Linked DNA regions of Homo sapiens. The protein of the gene in region 1 interacts with the protein of each later gene in a biochemical or structural test. Each region holds a gene or a part of one and is shown in the gene's direction. Other genes may lie near its edges.

Region 1 (7,024 bases):
GTTGGCCAGGCTTGTCTCAAACTCCTGGCCTCAAGTGATCTGCACATTTCAGCCTCCCAAAGTGTTGGGATTACAGGCATGAGCCACTGCGCCCAGTCTGTTTTTGGCTTTTTTGAGACAGGTTCTCATTCTGTCACCCAGGCTAGAGTGTAGAGGTGTGATCATGGCTCACTGCAGCCTCAGCCTCCTGGGCTCTTGTGATCCTCCTGCCTTAGCCTCCCAAAGTGTTGGGATTACGGGCATGAGCCACTGCACCCAGCCAAATCTGCTTCTCTTGAGCTTTGCCCATGTGTCAGGCATGTAGGACTTTATAGTCCTTATCTCTCATCATAAACTCTGGGTACAGGCTGTTGCTACTCCCATTTTACAGATGTACAGGAACATTCTCAGACTCTTTAAGCTAGGAAGAGGCAAAGTCTGAGGCTAGACCTGCTAACTTGGGGCCAGATGGCCTCATTCATGCTTCACCCCAGCTCCTCGGACAGGACCTGGCCCACAGTGGGGAACAGGGGAGGTTGGTCAGTCCTGGACAATCAGTGAAGACCTTTAGCAGATTTCACCAACCAAAAGTCATGCAGGAAAGTGTGCGCGCGCGCGTGTGTGTGGTATGTGTGTGTGTGTGTGGTGTGTGTGTGTGTGTCTTACTCTGTTGCCCAGGCTGGAGTGCAGTGGCACAATCTTGGCTCACTGCAACCTCTGCCTCCCAGGTTCAAGTGATTCTCCTGGCTCAGCCTCCCAGTGTGCCACCACACCCAGTGAGGGAAAGCTATTTTTACATGGCTCAAGCAGTGTAAATGACAATGATGTTTACTTACTTCCCCCCACCACCACCACCATTTAATTCTCCTCTTGAAAACTAAAAGCTGGCTGGGTATGGTGCATCACTCCTATAATCCCAGCACTCCAGCACTTTGGGAGGATCACTTGAACTCAGGAGTTTGAGGCCAGCCTGGACAACATAGTGAGACGCCATCACTATAAGAAATAAAAAAATAGCTGAGTGTGGTGGCATATGCCTGTAGTCCCAGCTACTTGGGAGGCTGAGGTGGGAGGATTGCTAGAGCCCGGGAAGTCAAGGCTGCAGTGAACCGTGATTGCACCTCTGCACTCCAGCCTGGGTGACTCCCCACAGATGAATATGCTGACAGTGGTTTCAGCTGCTCGGTGGTGATTCAGACCTGGACGCGTGGCTTCAGTAGCCCTGGGGCCACACTGCCTGCCCGCAGCCTCCTGTCTTGCTCTATGCTATTCCTTCCAAGTCCCTGCCATCTAGTCTTTAGTCCTCTCTGCCTGGGAGGCCTCTTCCACTCCTCAGCCTTATGTCATCTTATCCATCCTTTAAGGCCCTTGCTCCATGCCTCCCCTCCCAGGGCAGGGCTTGGATGTAGGAGAATGTGGAGAACTGGCGCACGCCAGCCTTGCTCCCCAGCAGAGGAGCTCTGTTTACTGGAGTGCGTACTTAGGCCACGGCTTGAAGATATGGGGCTGGGGTGTAGGGCTGTCAAGATTGTTCCTGGGGCCAGGTGCAGTAGTTCACTCCTGTAATCCCAACACTTTGGGAGGCCGAGGCCGGCAGTTCACCTGAGGTCAGGAGTTCAAGACCAGGCTGGCCAACATGGTGAAACCCCATCTCTACTAAAAATACAAAAAAAAAAAAATTAGTCGGGCAGGGTAGCGGGTACCTGTAATCCCAGCTACTTAGGAGGCTGAGGTGGGAGAATTGCATGAACCAGGGAGGCAGAGGTTGCAGTGAGCTGAGATCGCGCCACTGCACTCCAGCCTGGGCGACAGAGCGAGACTCCGTCTTAAAAAAAAAAAAAAAAAAAAAAAGATTGTTCTTGGGCTCTCTGTGAAGCTTGGATTTCTTTGGGTTGGGTGTGCCATGGCAAGTGCCATGGCAGACCTGGGTGAGGGAAAAGGGAGTACAATGGGAAGGGCTTCCCCAGCTCTGGAGATAGGTAGGGTTGGGGAGAGGCCAAAAGACTCTTTGCTGAGTCATCTCTCAGGCTCCTGGGGCCATCAGAGTGTCCAGGCCCCAAAGGTGGTTTTCGGGTGGTTCTAGGGGCAAGGGGCTAGGGCATGGTGCTGGCCCTGCCTGGTGATCACCTGTTGAGTGACCAGCTCAGGTCCCCAGGGTCCAGCCATTGAGCTGACTACTGTTTCTACCCTGGGAAGATTGAGCTGGCCAGGACTTGGCATCAAGGCAGTTATTTGGACTTCTAGTACTCACAGTGTATTCTGGTTGGGTTGTAACTTACCTCTGGTACAACTCTACTTGTATCTTCAGAAAAGATCAAGAGATATTTGCAAAAACATAATATGATAAAGGACTGTCTAAAGGACAAAGAACACTTAAAACTCTATAATAAGAAAACAACAATAAATAACACCGTGCATCTCTTAGAATGACCAAAATCCAGAACACTGCCAAATGCTGCTGAGGACGTAGAGCAACAGGAACTCTCGCTCTTTCCTGGTGGGAATGCAAAATGGTGCAGCCACCTTGGAAGACAAGTTAGGCGGTTTCTTTCATTTATTTATTCATAAAATCTTTTTAACAAAGAAATTGAGTCTCTCTCTTGCCCAAAATGGAGTGCAGAAGCGTGATCACAGCTCATTGCATTCTCAAACTCCTGGGCCTAAGAAGTCCACCCTTCTTAGCCTCTGAAGTAGCTGAGACTACAGGCACATGCCACCATGCCAGGCCAATATATTTATTTTGTTATTATTTTTTGAGATGGAATCTTGCTCTGTCACCCAGGCTGGAGTGTAGTGGCGCAACCTCAGTTCACTGCAATCTCTGCCTCCCGGGTTTAAGCAATTCTCCTACCTCAGCCTCCCAAGTAGCTGGACTACAGGCGTGCACCACTACGCTCTGCTAATTTTTTTGTATTTTTAGTAGAGACAGGGTTTTACCACGTTGGCCAGGCTGGTCTTGAACTCCTGACCTCAAGTGATCTACCCAGCTTAGCCTCCCAAAGTGCTGGGATTACAGGTGTGAGCCACTGAGCCTGGCCCAGGCTAATATATTTAATTTTTTTTTTTTTTTTTTTTTGTAGAGATGGGGTCTTGTTATGTTTCACAAACTGGTCTTGAACTCCCGGCCTCAAGTGATCCTCCCTCCCTGGCCTCCCACAGTGCTCAGATTACAGACATGAGTCACTGCTCCTGGCCCAGTTTGGCAGTTTTGTTTTGTTTTTTTTTTGAGACTCAGTCTCGCTCTTTCGTCCAGGCCAGACTGCAGTGGCGCAATCTCCACTCACTGCAAGCTCCGCTTCCCAGGTTCACACCATTCTCCTGCCTCAGCCTCCTGAGTAGCTGGGACTACAGGCGCCCACCACCACGTCCAGCTAATTTTTTTTTGTATTTTTAGTAGAGACGGGGTTTCACTGTGTTAGCCAGGATGGTCTCGATCTCCTGACCTCGTGATCCACCTGCCTTGGCCTCCCAAAGTGCTGGGATTACAGGCGTGAGCCACCGCGCCCGGCCGGCAGTTTCTTACAAAACTAAACATATGTCTTACCATTGGATCCAGCAATTACATTCCTTGGTATTTAGCCAAATGAATTGAAAACTTGTATCCACACAGATGCTTATAACAGCTTTATTCATTAATTGCTAAGGTTTGAAAGCAACCAAGATGTCCTTCAGTGGGTTAATGGATAAATAAATTGTGGTATATCTAGACAAATGACATTCAACACTAAGAAGAAATGAGTCTGGGTGCAGTGGCTCACACCTGTAATCCTAGTACTTTGGGAGGCCGAGACAGGCAGATCTCTTGAGCCCAGGAGTTTGAGACCAACCTGGACAACATAGCAAAACCCAGTCTCTATAAAAATACAAAAAAATTAGCTGGGGGTGGTGGTGCCTATCTGTAGTCTCAGCTACTTGGGAGGCTGAGGTGGGAGGATTGCTTGAGCCTGTGAAGTCAAGGTTGCAATGAGCCAAGATCACGCCACCATCCAGTGGGCAACAGAGCAAGACCCTGTCAAAAATAAATAAGTAAGTATGAAGTGGGGGAAAAACAAGTAACGGCTGGGCACAGTGGCTCACGCTTATAAACCCTGCATTTTGGGAGGCCGAGGCAGGCAGATCACTTGAGGTCAGGAGTTCAAGACCAGCCTGGCCAACATGGTGAAACCGCATGTCTACTAAAGATACAAAAATTAGCTGGGCATTGAGGCGGGTGCCTGTAATCCCAGCTACTTGGGAGGCTGAAGCAGGAGAATTGCTTGAACCCAGGAGGCGGAGGTTGCGGTGAGCCAAGATCGTGCCATTGCATTCTAGCCTGGGCAACAGACTCTGAAAAAATAATAATAATAAAAAGAACAAATAGCTTCTAACGACAAATTTATTTCTCACTTATTGAGGCTGGGAAGTCTGAAGATCAAGGTGCCAACAGATTCAGTGGCAACTGAGGGCCGGCTTCATGGTTTATAGATGGTGCCTTTTCACTGTGTCTTTATATGATGGAAAGGGCAAGGCAGTTCTCAGGGGCCTCTTTGATAAGGACACCAATCCCATCATGACCTAATCACTTCCCAATGGTCCCAACTCCTAATACCATCACATTGGTGATTAGGTTTCAACATAAGATTTTTGGGGAGATACATTCAGACATAGCAGCTACATATTGCATGATTCCAGCTATCATGTCTGATAACCACACAAAACCTATAGAATGTGCAACACCAAGTATGAGCCCTAACATAAACTAGGGAAGCTGAGTGGTAATGATGTGTTAAGGTAAAAGGTTCATTGGTGGTAACAAATTTGCCCCTCTGGTGAGGGATGCTGATAGTGGGAAAAGCTGTGTGTGTTCAGGGGCAGGGGGTATTTAGGAATTCTCTGTCCTTTCCTCTCAGTTTTGCTGTATACCTAAAGGTGTTCTAAAAAGTAAAGTCTATTTTTTAAAAAAGTATGAAGAGACCAGGACATCAATCTCAAGCCCCTTCTCAGTTTAGCAGATAGCTTGCTCTAGAAATACTTTTGGGTGGCTGGGTTGTCCTGAAGGTGGCAGGGCTTCAGTTGATACTTGAATCCCTTGAAATAAATTGATTTTTCAGATAAACAATTAAAACATTCCTGTCTTGGCCATAGGTTTATGAACCATGGTGTGTTCATTTTGATCTCTCTTTCCTTCCAGGACAACCCTCCATATGATAAGGGAGCCTTCAGAATCGAAATCAACTTTCCAGCAGAGTACCCATTCAAACCACCGAAGATCACATTTAAAACAAAGATCTATCACCCAAACATCGACGAAAAGGGGCAGGTCTGTCTGCCAGTAATTAGTGCCGAAAACTGGAAGCCAGCAACCAAAACCGACCAAGGTAAGACATGTGCCTGTGTCTTCCTCGGAGGGGGTCTTTGGGGGTGCTGCTCTGGGGTGGGGGCTTCTGGTACCAGATCAGACAGAATCCAGAGAATCTTTCAGGTACACGAAAAATGTAGCTGAGGTCCTGTCAGACCTTGTGGGAATGGCTCATCTCAGCTGAACTTTTGACCTGTATAGGGTTTGAGGAGGCCTTTCCAGTGCTCAGCCCTGGGCTGCCATCCACAGTGGGAACACACATGGACAGACAAGCCCAGTGGCTTGCTGCTGGTGCAGAGAGGTGCAGGCACTGGTCCCTGGAAGGGATGAAGGACTGTGGGGCTGCCTACAAGGGGAAGGGAGAGTGGGATTTAAGGTGGCCTCATGCAGTAGTTAGTGCCTGAACTCAGACTTGAAGGAGGAAAGGAGGTTGGAGAGGGCCTTCCAGGCTATAGGAAGGGCATGGGCTAGAGCCTAGTTGCTCGGGTGATGTGAGGGGAGGGACAGAGGCAGATGTAAGGGCAGTATTCCCAGATGAAGGCACGTAGTTGGCTTTAGTGGGCCTGGGATTCCCTGGAGTTGGATGTGGCTGTGCGTGGTGCACATGTCTGTGTGTGGCTGTGTGAACATAAACATGCTCATTCTTCTGGGAAGAATATTTGAGTCAGTATTGTGGTTGTCCTCCCTTTTGTCCCCTAGAAGTGACTAGTTTGTTATGGACTGTGTCTGGTTTTCATTTAATTCTAGACTTTCTTTTGAAGTCCTAATCTCATATTTTGATGGCTTCCTTTTAAGTACCTAAACCAGTATAAAGTCTGTTTAGATTAGAGTGGATGAAGCTGGCACTTGAGAGGCTGCAAGTGGAGGGTTTCTTTTAGGGGTGCTGCTCTAGGGTAGGGGCTCATGGGTCCTTCCTGATGCCAGATCAGACGGAGTCCAGAGAACTCCTACCTTACCAGGTGCACGCAAAGTATGGCTGAGGTGCCACCAGTCCCTGTGGGAATAACTCAGCTGAACTTTTGACCTGCACAGGGATTGAGGAGGTCCCTTGTTTTAGTGATTGAAAAAAGCCTTGGAAGGTGGAGTTCAAAGCCTTGCGCAAGAAAAATCAAGCCTCACTTGTTGGAAGTAATCACCATGAAAGGTGCCCATTAGACTCCCACACTGAGTAGAAGAAAGGAGTGGGTGCTAAACATTCAGTCAGGGCAGAACAGTCTCTAGTGGGCTTGGTCCTTGTTTGTGTACAAGCTGATGTTTATAAAAGCTTGACACAGTTCTTCTCAGTGCCTGGTTTTTTCTTTTCTTTTCTTTTCTTTTTTGGAAACGGAGTCTCGCTCTGTCACCAGGCTGGAGTGCAGTGGCGCGATCTCTGCTCACTGCAACCTCCGCCTCCCGAGTTCGCGCCATTCTCCTGCCTCAGCCTTCCGAGTAGCTGGGACTACAGGCACCCGCCACCACGCCCGGCTAATTTTTTGTATTTTTAGTAGAGACGGGGTTTCACCATGTTAGCCAGGATGGTCTCGATCTCCTGACCTCGTGATCCGCCCGCCTCGGCCTCCCAAAGTGCTGGGATTACAGGCGTAAGCCACCGCACCCAGCCGATTTTTTCTTTTCTTTTCTTTTTTTTTTTTTTTTTTTTTTTTTTTTGAGACGGAGTCACCCAGGCTGGAGTGCAGTGATGCCATCCCAGATCACTGTAACCTCCGC
Region 2 (7,024 bases), on another chromosome or scaffold:
GGCCAACATGACTTCTGCTGTCTACTTCTGGTTAAACTGAGACAGCCAGCCCAGTTTCATCATGGAGGAGGAGCTGTACAAATGTGTGAATACCAGGAGATGTGGGCACTGGGGCCACATGTGGTGTAGCTATCACAGGTGGCAATTCAGAAGGGCTTTTGTGCTTTATCTTACTAACACTTAGCCTGTTTATAAATGAGCACATTGTGAGTTTAGGGATAAATGTAAATAAATGTTTTTCAGATTTCATAAAGTAAAAATTGAGGAATTTTTATGTATTGGGCTAATTTGGCTTATGAGAAATAAAAAGTCCTCTAAATATAGAACTATGGTAATCAGTTTTGGGAGTTTGAACTTGAACTTTATGTACACAGAAACTTGCATGATATACTTTCTGTGTATAGATTATGTTCCCAAATCTTACTAAAATGTTTCCTAGTTTAAATATGAGGTCCACTTGATTGGAGTGAACACTGGCATAGCTTTTCTGGAAAGCAGTTTGATACCAGCAGCATGTGCCCTTCAACTAGCAGCTCTGTGTTTAGGGCTCTTCTGCAGAAACACACATGTAACTGAACGAATACGGGGAAAGACGGTCAATTAAATGCTACTTGTGAAAAAAAGTTACACTACTAAAATGGTTTTAGAGAAGAATGATTATATTATACATTCAGCAGAATATTATGTGGATATTTAAAAGTGCATAAGCTGTCAAATTTTAAAAGTAAGTCTTAGAAGAATTATGTAGGAACAAAATCCATGGTTTTTTTTTTGTTTTTTGTTTTGTTTTTTTGGGTTTTTTTGAGGTGGAGTCTCGCTCTGTTGCTCAGGCTGGAGTGCAGTGGCAAGATCTTGGCTCACTGCACCTCTGCCTCCCAGGTTCAAGTGATTCTCCTGCCTCAGCCTCCCGAGTAGCTGGGAGTACAGGTACGCACAACCACACCTGGCAACTTTTTTTTATTATTAGCAGAGATGGGGTTTCACCATATTGGCCAGGCTGGTCTCAAACTCCTGACCTCGTGATCTGCTTGCCTCAGCCTCCCAAAGTGCTGGGATTACAGGTGTAAGCCACCGTGCCTGGCTGTTTTTTTATGATTATACTGAAGATGTTCAGGAGGCTGCAACCAAATAAAGTTTTTGCCTAGGATGAGGGAGTGGAGATGATGCGACTGGAAATAGGAAGGAGAAAGAGGGTAAAAGAATGGACTTTCATATTTTACTGTCTCCATAGTTAATGTTTGATTTTTTTGTTATATACGTAAAAAGTATGTATTACGTTTCTACTTAAAAAAAATGAAAGAACAGGCTGGGTGCAGTGGCTCATGCCTGTATTCCCAGCATTTTGGGAGGCCAAGGTGGGTGGATCACCTGAGGTCAGGAGCTCAAGACCAGCCTAGCCAACATTGTGAAACCTTGTCTCTACTAAAAATACAAAAATTAGCTAAGCGTGTTGGCAGGCACCTGTAATCCCAGCTACTTTGGAGCCCGAGGCAGGAGAACCGCTTGAACCTGGGAGGTGGAGGTTGCAGTGAGCTGAGATCGCACCACTGTATTCCAGCCTGGGTGACAGAACGAGACTCCACCTAATATAAATTAAAAATAATAAAAAAAGAACAAATGAGAATTTCCTAAGTCTTAGCAGTGTCTCCTTTTCAAGACCTCGTGTGTCCTACTCAGTCCCTGGATCCCACTCTTCAGGGTTCAGTCGTGTTTACAGCACGTAATAATCCCTTGCCAACTACAGTTATTAGATTAAAAATTCAAAGAAAAACTTTTACAGTTACACAGTTTTGCTGTCCCCTTAACCCAACAAACAAAAATACGGTCCTCCAAAGGATATAATGTTAAGTAACTTATTTCTTAAAGTAGAGAACCATTTCTCCAAATTTGGAAATGTTAACAAATTTGACAGATGAGTAAGTTCTGTGATGCATGAGATGGAGAAGTTTTCTTGGGTAGATAAATAAAAACAATTCACTTATAAATCGTACATTCACACAATAGATGTAGTTTAGTGCATTTTTTTATTGGTAAAATTACATCTTCCAGAATTTTTATATCCTCTAGAGAACAATGATTATTTAATCAAAAAGTGCTTGCTATTGGCTTTTACTATTTATTCTTCTCATTTTTGGTATGAGGATTCTCTACCTCCTCTTCTCCCGTAGGCCTCCCTCAAATAGAAACAAAACACCCAACACATTCAAATTACATTTGCAAGTAAAATCAGAAAAATAAGTCATTTTTGAGTGAAAGAGCTCTTTATTCTAGTTATTGGCATGTATGCTGTAAGTTTAGAAAGAAATTTCATCAAGACTCAGCTCTAGTAGACGTCCTGTTTCCTGGGAGCTTCTCTGATTTGAAGGGTTGCTCTGCTGATGCTGCTTTTGTTAGTAGTTTACCACTTTTCATCAACATTGAACTGTGTCACACCTCAGGGTTCATTTATCCCCATTAGTCTGAGATTTATTGTTAGACTTGAGGCTAAACCGTTAATGTTAGATGCTTGTAAGATGCGGTGTTGCTAAAGTAGAGATTTATAATAATAATTACCAGATCTGAAAATACATGTGATTATACGAAATCCTGCCGAATGTTTACAGGCTCTATGTGAACTGGAGATTTTTACGAGGCATTGAGGCTCAATTCTTGGCTCTGCAGAAAGGATTTAATGAAGTAATTCCACAACATCTGCTGAAGACATTTGATGAGAAGGAGTTAGAGGTTAGTGCATTAGTATTATAACATCACTAGTGTAACAAGGAAGGATTGGGAATTATTTTGTTACTTAGTTTTAGAGGAAAGCATATTTCTGGTGCTTTCTAAGTTTCATGGTTCTATGCTTGAGAATTCTTATTCACAGGAAAAGTCTTTCATGCTTTTGAAGGCCTTTCATGCTTTGGAATTTCTGTGAGTGAACAATCTGTCTCTCTCTCTCTTTTTTTTTTTCTGAGACAGGGTCTCACTCTGTCACCCAGGCTGGGGTGCAGTGGTGCAATCATGGCTCACTGCAGCCTTGACCTCCTGGGCTCAAATGATCCTTCAGCCCCTCAAGTAGCTGAGACTACAAGCATGCACCAGCACCCCTGGCTAATTTTTTTGTTTTTTTTGGTAGAGACAGGGTTTTGCCATGTTTCCCAGGGTGGTCTCAAACTCCTGAGCTCAAGTGATCCGCCTGCCTTGGCCTCCCAAAGTGCTAGGATTATAGGCTTGAGCCACCATGCCCAGCTGTGAGCAGTCTCTCTTATATTGTGAAAATTTTTAATTTATTTTTCTATCCTGTACTTTCTTGTTTTAAACAGATTTCGTGACTTATATGTACATTCTTCCAATATATGTCTATTCCCTAACTTAGTGGTTACTGATTTAGTTAAGTAAAACCTCATTAATCTACCATTTTGAAATTTATTTGGGTAAGAGCCTACTCTGAATTAGTTTTACACTAAGCTTGCAAGAAAGCATTTGATAGACAAGATCATCGAGAAAATAACTAAAACACCTAGGATAAATTGAATCTAAATGTCTCTCTCTTTTTTTTTTTTTTTTTTTTGGAGACAGAGTTGCCCAGGCTGGAGGGCAGTGGCACTGCAACCTCCACCTCCTGGATTCAAGTGATTCTCCTGCCTCAGCCTCCCAAGTAGCTGGGACTACAGGCACCTGCCACCACGTCCAGCTAATTTTTGTATTTTTAGTAGAAACGGGGTTTCACCATGTTGGCCAGGCTGGCCTGGGACTCCTGACCTCAAATAATCCACCCACCTCGGCCTTCCACAGTGCTGGGATTACAGGTGTGAGCCACCGCACCTGGCCTCTAAATGTCTTTAGATTAACGGCCATACTAAACAGTGAATAGTTTTTTGTTTCCTTTTAAAGCTGGCCCTTAAACACCCCAGGTTTTGTAATTAAGACCTTAAACAAATGCATCTGAATTTCCTACTGAACAACTAAAAAACACGAGGTTTAATTCTATTAAAGGTCCCAAATTTATTTAGTAGTTAGGGATAACACAAATATTTGAAGTCTACTAATAATTTGAAACATGATTTTATTCAATGCCTTCAATGTCCTTTCTAAATAAATCTGTTAATAGACCTGTTAGCAAACAAATCTAAAAAGGTTGGTTTTACTTAATACTCTCCCCATTCCTTTTGTGATTGAATTGTTCATAGTGAAATAGCCAGAAGGAAGTAGTTAGAAGGAGAACATAGCAGGAATGCCGATAAGGTTGAAATATAATGCATTTTCATCTCTTTATACAATAAACGAGGATTTGGCCTTCTAACTGCCATTCCTCTGAAGAAAAGAATTTAGGAGGTGTCTTTTATGTCATTAAATACACCCATAATCCTTTTCGGATAACCTCCTCCCTGTTCAGTGTGGTGTTAATTCAGTGAACCCTGTAGAAGCTTTGTTGGAGATTTTATTTCAGAACCCCATAGAAGCCTTACTGGAGACTTTATTTGGTAGGGTTAGGATTTTTAATATAGTTTCTACTGCTAATGGGTCATGAAACTTTGTTTTTCTTCTCTTTTTTCTTTTTTTTATTTGTGGAGACAGAATCTCACTCTGTCACCCAGGCTGGAGTACAGTGGCACAATCTCCACTTACCGCAACCTCTGCCTCCCAGGTTTTCAAGCGATTCTCGTGCCTCAGCCTCCTGAGTAACTGGGACTTCAGGTGTGCACCACCATGCCTGGCTAATTTTTGTATTTTTAGTAGAGATGGGGTTTCACCATGTTGCCCAGGCCGGTCTTGAACTTTTTAGCTCAGGCAATCCACCTGCCTCTGCTTCCCAAATTGTTAGGATTACAGGCGTGAGCCACTGCACCAGGCCTGAATCATTAAACTTTTTATTTTTATTTTTTGAGATAGAGTCTCACTCTGTTGCCTAGGCTGGAGTGCAGTACCATGATCCTAGCTCACTGTTAACTCTTATGCTGAAGTGATCCTCCTACCTCAGTCTCCCCAGTAACTGGTACTACAGGTGTGCACCACCACGCCTGGCTAACATTATTTTGGCTTTTTTTTTTTTTTTTTTTTTTTTTGGAGACACAGTCTCACTTGTCCCCCAGGCTGATGGGATCTCAGCTCCCTACAACCTCTACTTCCTGGGTTCAAGCGATTCTCATGCCTTACCTGGGATTACAGGTGCCCGCCACCACGCCCGGCTACCTTTTTGTATTTTTAGTAGATACAGGGTTTCGCCATGTTGGCCAGGCTGGTCTTGAACTCCTGACCTCAAGTGATCTGCATGCCTCGTCCTCCCAAAGTGCTAGGATTACAGGCGTGAGCTACCACACCCTACCAATTTTTAAAGACAATATGTATAACATTTATTTTAGCATTGTATATATTAATCCTGGGTGTAATTCTATAAAATACAGGATTTGCAAGTTATGTTTTATAGTATACATGGAATTCACTGCTATAAACAAACATGTTAGATTAGTATGGTGAGTTAGTCTTGAACCCTAGGGAGACATATTAATGATAGTATAAAATGATTTGGATATAGTTCATCTGTGTGACCCTCCATCAGGATGTGTTTAGCAGAGGTCTGTATCAATGTGCTCATGTATTTTGTGCTTTAATATCAATTTAATATTATTAAGCAAATGTAGGCCAGGTGTAGTGGCTCACACCTATAATCCTAGCACTTTGGGAGGCTGAGGCAGGCGGATCACTTGAGGCCAGGAGTTGGAGACCAGCCTGGCCAACATGGCGGAATCTCATCTCTACTAAAAATACAAAAATTAGCTGGGCATTGTGGTGCATGCCTGTAATCCCAGCTACTTGGGAGGCTAAGGCAGGAGAATCACTTGAACCCGGGAGGCAGAGGTTGCAGTGAGCCTAGATCATGCCACTGCACTCCAGCCTAGGAGACAGAGCAAAATTCTGTCTTAAAAAAAAAAAATTATTAAGCAAATTGTATGACTCACTTATTCAACACCCATTTCTGAAGTTTCTGTGCATTATCGGTTGCTTCCCCAGGATGTAGTGAAATGGATGTTACTACCATATTACAGCAGAGGAATTGATTGAATTGCCCTCAATCAACAAAGCTAATAGGTATTGAAACTAGTAGATGATGCAGGTCCAAAGAAGGCACATATCTGTATTTACTCTTTGGGTCTCAATTTCTGTCCATTTTTTTTAAAGCTTTATAATTTTATTATGAACTTATGAAACATTCTCAATTGTTTACCTGGTCAAGTCTATCACAGCTGTGGTTCTCAGACCCTGGAGAGGGAGTTTGCAGTGAGTAGATATCTCTGGAGCTTTTTAAAATATAGATCCCAACTGTCACCCCAGGTGCACAGAATTAACATCTCTGAGCCTAGGACCTGGAATGTCAATTTGAAAAGCTTTTCAGATGATTCTGATGTGCATCTTTAATTAGGAACCACCAAATGACAGCCAGCAGTACAAACCTAAAGTTCTCTTTTGAGGAATTTTTGGTCTGGCTGTGGTTTCCACAGGTTCATTACTGTGTACTATTTTCACAGCTCATTATTTGTGGACTTGGAAAGATAGATGTTAATGACTGGAAGGTAAACACCCGGTTAAAACACTGTACACCAGACAGCAACATTGTCAAATGGTTCTGGAAAGCTGTGGAGTTTTTTGATGAAGAGCGACGAGCAAGATTGCTTCAGTTTGTGACAGGATCCTCTCGAGTGCCTCTGCAGGGCTTCAAAGCATTGCAAGGTAACAGCCTGAGGTGCAGGCAAGCTGGGCAGCGGGTGGGGGCGGGGCTGTCAGCGTGGGGTCTGTGGAGATATTTTGTAAACCATGTGCTTAGAGATTCTCTTTTTCACTTCTTATCTGTGACTCTCACATTGTGATACCTTCTTCTCCCTCCTTTCTTTTGTTCCCTTCCCAAGAGCCTTTTCTGCGGGCTTCTCTGATTGTAGTGAGTGCCGCATGCTAGAGACCGTACGTGGTGATGCTCTGCCTTTGTTTTCTGGTCACCTTACTTTTAATTCTGTTGCACATTCCTGTAGGGAAGTCGTTCACTTCCATG
Region 3 (7,832 bases), on another chromosome or scaffold:
AGCGCACACGCAGCTGCTTTCCACAGAGTGGCATATTGTCCAGCTCCACTTTCGCAATCTCCGCTAGGGTTCGTGTTTCCAAGCGGATAAAGCCAAATCCTTAATCCTTATGAATGAAGACTTCGCCTGCCTTTCCATATTTCTCAAATAGTTTCCTCATTTCTTCCTCAGTGATGTCGGGAGGAAGATTTCCCACAAAAAGACGGCTTCGTTGGGTGAAGGTCTTCTCTCCTGGTTTTCTAAAATTCTTCAGGCCAAATAGTCAAAGCCTTCATTTTGGCTGCTGGCCTGTTGCCCATTTGCAGGTATTGGCGGTGGTGGCGGCTGCAGCTGTTGCTGCTGGTGGTGATGTTGATGATGCTTTCTTGGAGTATGGTTTTGCTTCTCCAAGTTAAAAGTTTTATTACTCTGCATTTTTGCACCCTCAACTTCGATTGAAGACAGCAAAGTGCCTCCCACTTCCCTCTAACCTGGACTTCTCCTCTACCGACTGGTCTCTCCTCGGAGTAACGGCGACGCTACACGGCCTCTCCCGTCCCGAGAAAAGCTTTTTTTTGTTTTGTTTTGTTTTGAGACGGAGTCTTGCTCTGTCGCCCAGTCTGGAGTGCAGTGGCGCGATCTCAACTCACTGCAAGCTCCCCCTCCCGGGTTCACGCCATTCCCCTGCCTCGGCCACCCAAGTAGCTGGGACTACAGGCGCCCGCCACCATGCCCGACTTTTTTTGTATTTTTAGTAGAGACAGGATTTCACCGTATTAGCCAGGATGGTCTCGATCTCCTGACCTCGTGGTCCACCCGCCTCGGCCTCCCAAAGTGCTGGGATTACAGGCGTGAGCCACCGCGCCCGGCCAAGATAGGTACTGTTTTACAGACAAGGGATAGCTAACTAAAGCCACTAGGTGTAGCTGACATGGTCAGTAAGTGGTGAAAATAACGTAACACCCAGACAAACTGATTCAGAGCCACTTTTTTCTCTCTTCTCTTCTTTTTTCTTTCCTTTCCTTTTCTCTCTCTCTCTTTCTTTCTTTCTTTCTTTTTTTTTTTTTTGAGACACGGTCTCTCTCTGTTGCCCAGGCTGGTGTGCAGTGGCATGATCATAGTTCACTGCAACCTTGAACTCCCAGGCTCAAGTGAGCCTCCTACCTCAGCCTCTCGAGTAGCTGGCACCACAGGCCCACACCACCATGCCCAGCTAGTTTTTTCATTTTTACTTTTGTAGAGATGAGAGTCTCATCATGTTGCCCAGGCTGGTCTGAAACTCCCAGGTTCAAGCAGTCCTTTAGCCTTGGCCTCCCAAAGTGCTGGGATTACAGGTGTGAGACACGGTGCTGTCCCTGAGCCACCTAATTATCCATTCTGTTATACTGACTGCTGCTTATGTGCCTTCACTTCATTTTGAGCAACGTGGGGCCAGAGTCTGTCTAATTTGTCTTAATAGTCTCACCCCACCTCCCTAAGCAACACACATAATTTGGTAGCAAATAATTCCTTGCTGAATTGAACAGAAGGTGTATTTAGTGACTTCTACGTTTCCTTGCAAATCTGAAATTTTATGATTATAAGATCCGGTGAATTTTGCTGAATGTCGACTTGGGTCTTCATGCAAACTTTCTTCATGAAGTCTTCACGCCAGCTGGATTCCTCAATTGTCATTTATCTGTCCTACCCCAAAAATCCTTCAGTGCTACTGAATATTGCCTTTCAGCAATTACCCAAATTCAGTCTTTCTCTTTTTTTGGGGTGGCGGGAAGGGGACTGAGTTTTGCTCTCGTCGCCCAGGCTGGAGCACAGTGGTGCGATCTCAGCTCACTGCCACCTCTGCCTCCCAGGTTCAACAATTCTCCTGCCTCAGCCTCCTGTGTAGCTGAGATTATGGGTGCCCGCCACCACGCCTGGCTAATTTTTGTATTTTTAGTACAGATGGGGTTTCACCATATTGGCCAGATGGTCTCGAACTCCTGATGTACGGTGATCCACCTGCCTTGGCCTCCCAAAGTGCTAGAATTACAGGCGTGAGCCATTGCACCTGGCTCAACCTTTCTCACCACTCAGTCTCTTCATTATCTAGAACGTGCCTGTGCTACCTGCCGTAACAGAGTATGGCTGGAGGCTATTTCTCATTTTCTAGTTTATCATATCAATTTTTTTTTTTTGAGACAGAGTCTCACCCTGTCATCCAGGCTGGAGTCCAGTGTGCAATCTTGGCTCACTGCAACCTCCGCCTCCCAGGTTCAAGCGATTCTCAAGCCTCAGGCTCCTGATTAGCTGGGACTACGGGTGTGTGCCACCATGCCCAGCTAATATTTGTATTTTTTGTAGAGATGGGTTTTCACCATGTTGCCCAGTCTGATCTCGAGCCCCTGACAGTCTGATCTGCCCGCCTTGGCCTCCCAAAGTACTGGGATTACAGGTGCCAGCCACCGCACCCTGTCAGATTTTATTCTTTTAATGTGCAGTGTGTGCTCTTTGCTTGTCCCTTCTCCCCTTTGGTGAACACTTACTCAGATGCCACTAAATCTTTTCTGCAGGGTTGTTAAAAAAAAGCAACAAAAGATAAAAAATGAAATATGAAAGAAGAAAACAAACCGAAACCAACAAATGCTAGTAAGTCAAGGAAATAGTCTCTAATTTATCTAGAACAGAATTAGTAAAACTGCCATCAATGGAACTGGAGAAGTTTTAGTTATAGTAGTTTTATAAATGAGACTAATATAGGGTTTAATGTACAAAGACAGGACTGTATCTCCTTGAAAGTTAATCTCTTGGATTTGGAGTGGTACTACAAAAAGTAGAGACTAAGTGTTCAACCTATTTATTTATTTAGATACAGAGTCTCACTCTGTCGCCCAGGCTGGAGTGCAGAGGCGTTATCATGGCTCACTGCCACCTCCGCCTCCCGGGTTCAAGCAATTCTCCTGCCTCAGGTTCTGGAGTACCTGGGATTACCCGCACCCGGACCATGCCCGGCGAATCTTTTTTTTTTTTTTTTTTGTAGTTTTAGTAGAGATGGGGTTTCACCAGGTTGGCCAAGTGGGTTTCGAACTCCCGACCTCAGGTAATCCACCTGCCTCTGCCTCCCAAAGTGCTGGGATTACAGGCGTGAGCCTCCACGCCCCACCAGCCAATTTAATTTGTATGCATGATAGAATCCATCCCAATTCGAAGACCCAAAAATAACAGATTAGTACAAGTCTTTGAGGCTAATTACGTCATTAGTATTAATTTTAATCAATGGTGATTAAACTGAGCCTTCATTCAACTTGTCCAGAACATCAGTCAAGAATGTCTATTTAAAATGTTCTTGGAGGCCGGGCGCATTGGCTCACGCCTATAATCTGAGCACTTTGGGAGGCCAAGGCAGGTGGATCATCTGAGGTTAGGAGTTTGAGACCAGCCTGGCCAACATGGTGAAACCCCATCTCTATTAAAAATACAAAAATTAGCCAGGCATGGTGGTGGGTGCCTGTAGTCCCAGCTACTCAGGAGGCTGAGGAAGGAGAATTGCTTGAACCTGGGAGGCAGAGGTTGCAGTGAGCCAAGATTGAGCCACTGCACTCCTGCCTGGGCTACAAGAGTGAAACTCTGTCTCAAGCAAGCAAATAAATAAATAAATAAATAAATAAATAAAGTTATTGGGCAGGCACAGTGGCATTCGCCTGTAGTCTCAGCTACTTGGGAGGCTGAAGCAAGAGGACTGCTTGAAGCTGGGAGTTCGAGCCCAGCCAAAGCAACCTATCCAGACCCATCTCTTAAAAAAAATATTTCTCTGCCAGGTGCGGTGGTTCATGCCTGTAATCCCAGCACTTTGGGAGGCCAAGGTGGGCGGATCATTTGAAGTCAGGTGTTCGAGACCAGACTGGTCAACATGGAGGAACCCTGTCTCTACTAAAAATGCAAAAATTAGCCAGGCGTGGTGGTGCACGCCTGTAATCCCAGCTACTCGGGAGGCTGAGGCAGGAGAATTGCATGAACCGGCGAGACGGAGGTTGCAGTCAGCTGAGACTGCACCACTGCACTCCAGCCTGGGCGACAGAGCGAGGCTCCATCTCAAAAAAAAAAAAAAAAATATCATCTATCTATCCACCTACCTACCTACCTACCTACCTGGATTATAATTCATTAAGTTCTCTGTGCCCTGTAGTTGTAGATTAAGGGAATGCGATTGGATTAGTGTGGAGGGGCTTTTTATGGAGCCAAGCAGGAGTTTTTAAGCTTTTGTACTTTTGCTTCATGTCACAAGGACAGATGCCCCACAAAGGCTGAGATGTTTGTGGTCCTGGATCTTAGAACAGTGCCTGGCACATAATAGGCATAAGGTTGCCAGGAAATAGAAATACAGATACTCAATTCAATTTGATCTTCAGATAATCAAAAAATACTTTTTTTAGTATAAATATGTCCCATTCTGTATTTGGGACATACATATTACACTGTTGTTTATCTGAAATTCAAATTTAAGTGGGTGTCCTGTACTTTATCTGGCAACCCTACTAAAGGAGCTCAATTAAGTATTTGCTGACTTAACAGTCTGAAGGTCTCGTTTCACCTGTAAAATGGGGCTAGTACCTGTCCCTGCCTCTATAAGGTTGATGGGCAGAGTAGGTGGCATTCAGTGAGCCCTCAATTTATTTGATTGCCTGGGACCATCCGGTGAGCAGAAACCCTTCCACTTTCAACTACAGAGACGATAAAAAGGCCTCCTCGAGGCCAGAGGTGCCCAGGCCAGGCCTAGGTGGCCCGCACCTGCGAGCCTGGCCAGCCTCTTCCGGGTCAGGTGACCGCGCGCGGTCACGTGACCCGGCCCGAGTGCGGGCGGTGGAAGGCGGAAGTAGGAGAGGAGTTCGGCGCCGCTTCTGTGGCCACGGCAGGTAGCGAGCGCTGGCGCGGGGGGCGCGGTGGGCTGGCTGCCTGCACGGGGCGGGCCGGGGGCGGCGGGCGGCGCGGGGTGGGCCGGGGGCGGCGCGGCCCGGGCGTCGGGGGGCGGCGGCTTCCTGTGGGAGGGGCCTGGCGCGGCGGTTCCGGCCTCCGAGGAGGGGTGTCCCGGCTCCCGCCCGAGTGGGGTGGGCGCGCCGCGGCCCGCGCGGGGGTTGCTCCGAAATGGGTGCCCCGGCCGCCAAGGGTGCAGCTGGAGCGAGTCCTCCCGGAAGGGGAGAGGAGCTTAGGTTCCCAGGCATGGAGAGGAGCGATCTTTGTGGAGGGATCGGGACCAGGGGAAGGGGCGACTTGGAACTGAGCTGGAAGGGGGTGCCTGAAAATGGGTTTATGGCGTGGAGCCAGAGGGAAAAAGATGCTGCCTGGACCCCCTCTGAGAGTCTCTCCCTTCCTTCCTGTTTGGAAATGATTGTTACCCGAGACTTTGATGACGGTCCCATTCAGTTTTTAAACTTCAGGAGGGATCACAGAATCTTGATCGTCTTGCTTCCCTCGCGCCCACTTAGTCCTGCGTGGGTAGGGTTTCCACTTCTTGGGAGCCTAGCCCTTCAGCTCATTTTTCTTTGAGATTTTCCCTGAACGGGCCATCATCGAGGCTTTAAAAAACAAAAAAAGAAAATAAATTAAAAAAATAAGTGTGGGCACTTTGCCTGTAAAATGGCTTTTAGCTTACACTGTTGACCTAGCCCAGCGTTACCTCAGCAACATAGTGACTGCTGAAATCTTGGACAGAGAAGTGTCTACCTAGACTGCTTTATGACTTTTCTCTTTCTTCCGTTTAAATTATTCAGTTTCCCTTAGCTTATCTTGTGACTGCTTATCTTGACGAACTGTAACTAGGTAGGGTGCCTGAGAGGTCTGTGTTATGTTCCTTAGAACTGTGACCTGGATCATGATTTTGAGATTGAATACTTGTGTTAAAGCCTGTTCATCTTCCTGTTTCTCATGTTTACTAAAATTTGCAGAAGCAAAAGGAGTTTCATGAGTGCAGTGTAACTGGAACGAATGTTCAAACTGGACATTCACAGCAGCCAGCATCGTTTTGGGTTACAAGTAGGAAAAAGTACTTTCCTAATGTATTATGAGTTCAAGTTTTTGGAGTTATTTGACAAACATTTAAAAATTAGTTTTTGCAGCAGCGCCTATGAGTGAGGTTGGGAAGATGTATTCTCATTTCACAGGGAACAAACAGACTTACGAGAGACGACTTGATTTTTTAAAACAATTTATTGCTCTTTCTTGTTTGCTGGCCTCTTCCTGCTAGATTGCAAATCCTTCAAGGGCAGGTTTCATATTTTATTTGGCTGCTAGCCTAGTGCCTGGCATGTTGTGAGCACTTGATAAATATTTGGTGAATAAATGCATTTCTAAAAGTCACACCGGCGTAAGTGGTGACAAAGGATTTGAACCCAAGTCTTCTACTCTTTTTCTTGTCAGAGAAGCTTGTGATTATCTGTGTCATTGGTCCATATGAAAACAGGCTCGAGAGAAAGGCTTGGATTGGCTTCTCAGTCTCTTTCACTTCATGATTACTTTCCCATTTACAAAGAGCGTATACCAACATCTCACTTAACCTTCCCTTTGAAATTGGGATGGTCAGTATTGTCCCTATATCACATGAAGAGACTGAGGCTTAATGAAGTCCTTACTTTAGATTTCAGAGCTAGTAAATGAGTAGGGACTCAAGCCCAGACCCTTAATCCTTAGATCCATTCTTTTTCATTTATTGACACAATAGAAAATTTTATTTTTATTTTATTTTGAGACAGGATCTTACTCTGTTGCCCAGGCTGGAGTGCAGTGGCACAATCACGGCTCACTGTAACCTTGACCTGCCTGGGCTCGGGTGATCCTCCCATGTCTGCCTCCCAAACAGCTGGGACTACAGGTGGGTGCCACCTCGCCTGGCTAATTTTTGTAGAGACAGGGGTTTTGCTATGTTGCCCGGGCTGTTTTCAAACTCCGGGGCTCAAGCGATCCTCCCACCTCGGCCTCTCAAAGTGTTGCAATTACAGGTGTAAGTCACCATGCCCAACTGAAAGTTTTATTTTTACATAATTTTTCAGGAATAAAAAGTGTAACATTTTAAGGAAAAAGATCACACAGAAAAAGTTGTGAATGTAGAATGTGAGTAAATGAAGTTTAGAAAACGCTGTACTCTACCATAGCTTCCTCTTCCTGGGAAAACATTCTTTCATTCAGTGAATATTTATAAGTACCCACTCTGTCTTTGCCAGGCATTGTTGTAGAGTCCAGTATGGTGTACACTAGCCACATGGGGCTGCTGAGCACTGGAGCTATGCTGTGAGCATAAAATACATTCTGGATTTTGAAGACTTAGCATGAAGAAAAGTAAAATGTCTCATTGATACTTTTTATGTTATAGTAAACGATCATATAATGTATAAACATGTATGATAACATTTTGGATTTATTGGGTTAAATACAACGTAATTATAAATAGTTGGTCAGACATGGTGGCTCATGCCTATAATTCCAGCACTTTGGGAGGTCAAGGTGGATAGATTGCTTGAGCCCAGGAATTTGGGACCAGCCTGGGCAACATGGTGAAACCCTGTCTCTACAAAAAATACAAAAATTAGCCAGGTGCAGTGGCGCCCGCCTGGCTACTCAGGAGGCTGAGGTGGGAGGATCACCCAAGCCTGGGGAGGTGGAGGCTGCAGTGAGTTGTGATCGTGCCACTCATTGCACTCTAGCCTAGGTGACAGAGTGAGACCCTGTCTCAAAAAAAAGAAAAAGAAAAAGAAAAAAAGTTTCACCTTTTTGTCTTTTTTTTTCCCACTTAACCTTGACTTGAAACCCAGCACTTTTTTCTTTTTAAAATGTATTTCCTAGAAAAATAAAAAATTATAAATGTGGCTTGCACTTGTGGCTCCCAT

What was found. The genes of interacting proteins can lie anywhere in the genome.
Region 2: the proteins of UBE2L3 (region 1) and SMURF2 form a complex in vitro, tested with the Homo sapiens proteins (11 studies listed by BioGRID, with this or other methods).
Region 3: the proteins of UBE2L3 (region 1) and WWP2 form a complex in vitro, tested with the Homo sapiens proteins (11 studies listed by BioGRID, with this or other methods).

Annotation. Positions count from the first base shown.
Region 1 is NC_000022.11:21,605,708-21,612,731, forward strand, and holds part of UBE2L3 (ubiquitin-conjugating enzyme E2 L3), read left to right. Parts: intron 1-5,149; coding exon 5,150-5,336; intron 5,337-7,024. UniProt on the Homo sapiens protein: Ubiquitin-conjugating enzyme E2 that specifically acts with HECT-type and RBR family E3 ubiquitin-protein ligases.
Region 2 is NC_000017.11:64,547,284-64,554,307, reverse strand, and holds part of SMURF2 (E3 ubiquitin-protein ligase SMURF2), read left to right. Parts: intron 1-2,603; coding exon 2,604-2,724; intron 2,725-6,506; coding exon 6,507-6,708; intron 6,709-7,024. UniProt on the Homo sapiens protein: E3 ubiquitin-protein ligase which accepts ubiquitin from an E2 ubiquitin-conjugating enzyme in the form of a thioester and then directly transfers the ubiquitin to targeted substrates.
Region 3 is NC_000016.10:69,757,524-69,765,355, forward strand, and holds the start of WWP2 (NEDD4-like E3 ubiquitin-protein ligase WWP2), read left to right. Parts: upstream 1-4,808; 5' UTR 4,809-4,868; intron 4,869-7,832. UniProt on the Homo sapiens protein: E3 ubiquitin-protein ligase which accepts ubiquitin from an E2 ubiquitin-conjugating enzyme in the form of a thioester and then directly transfers the ubiquitin to targeted substrates.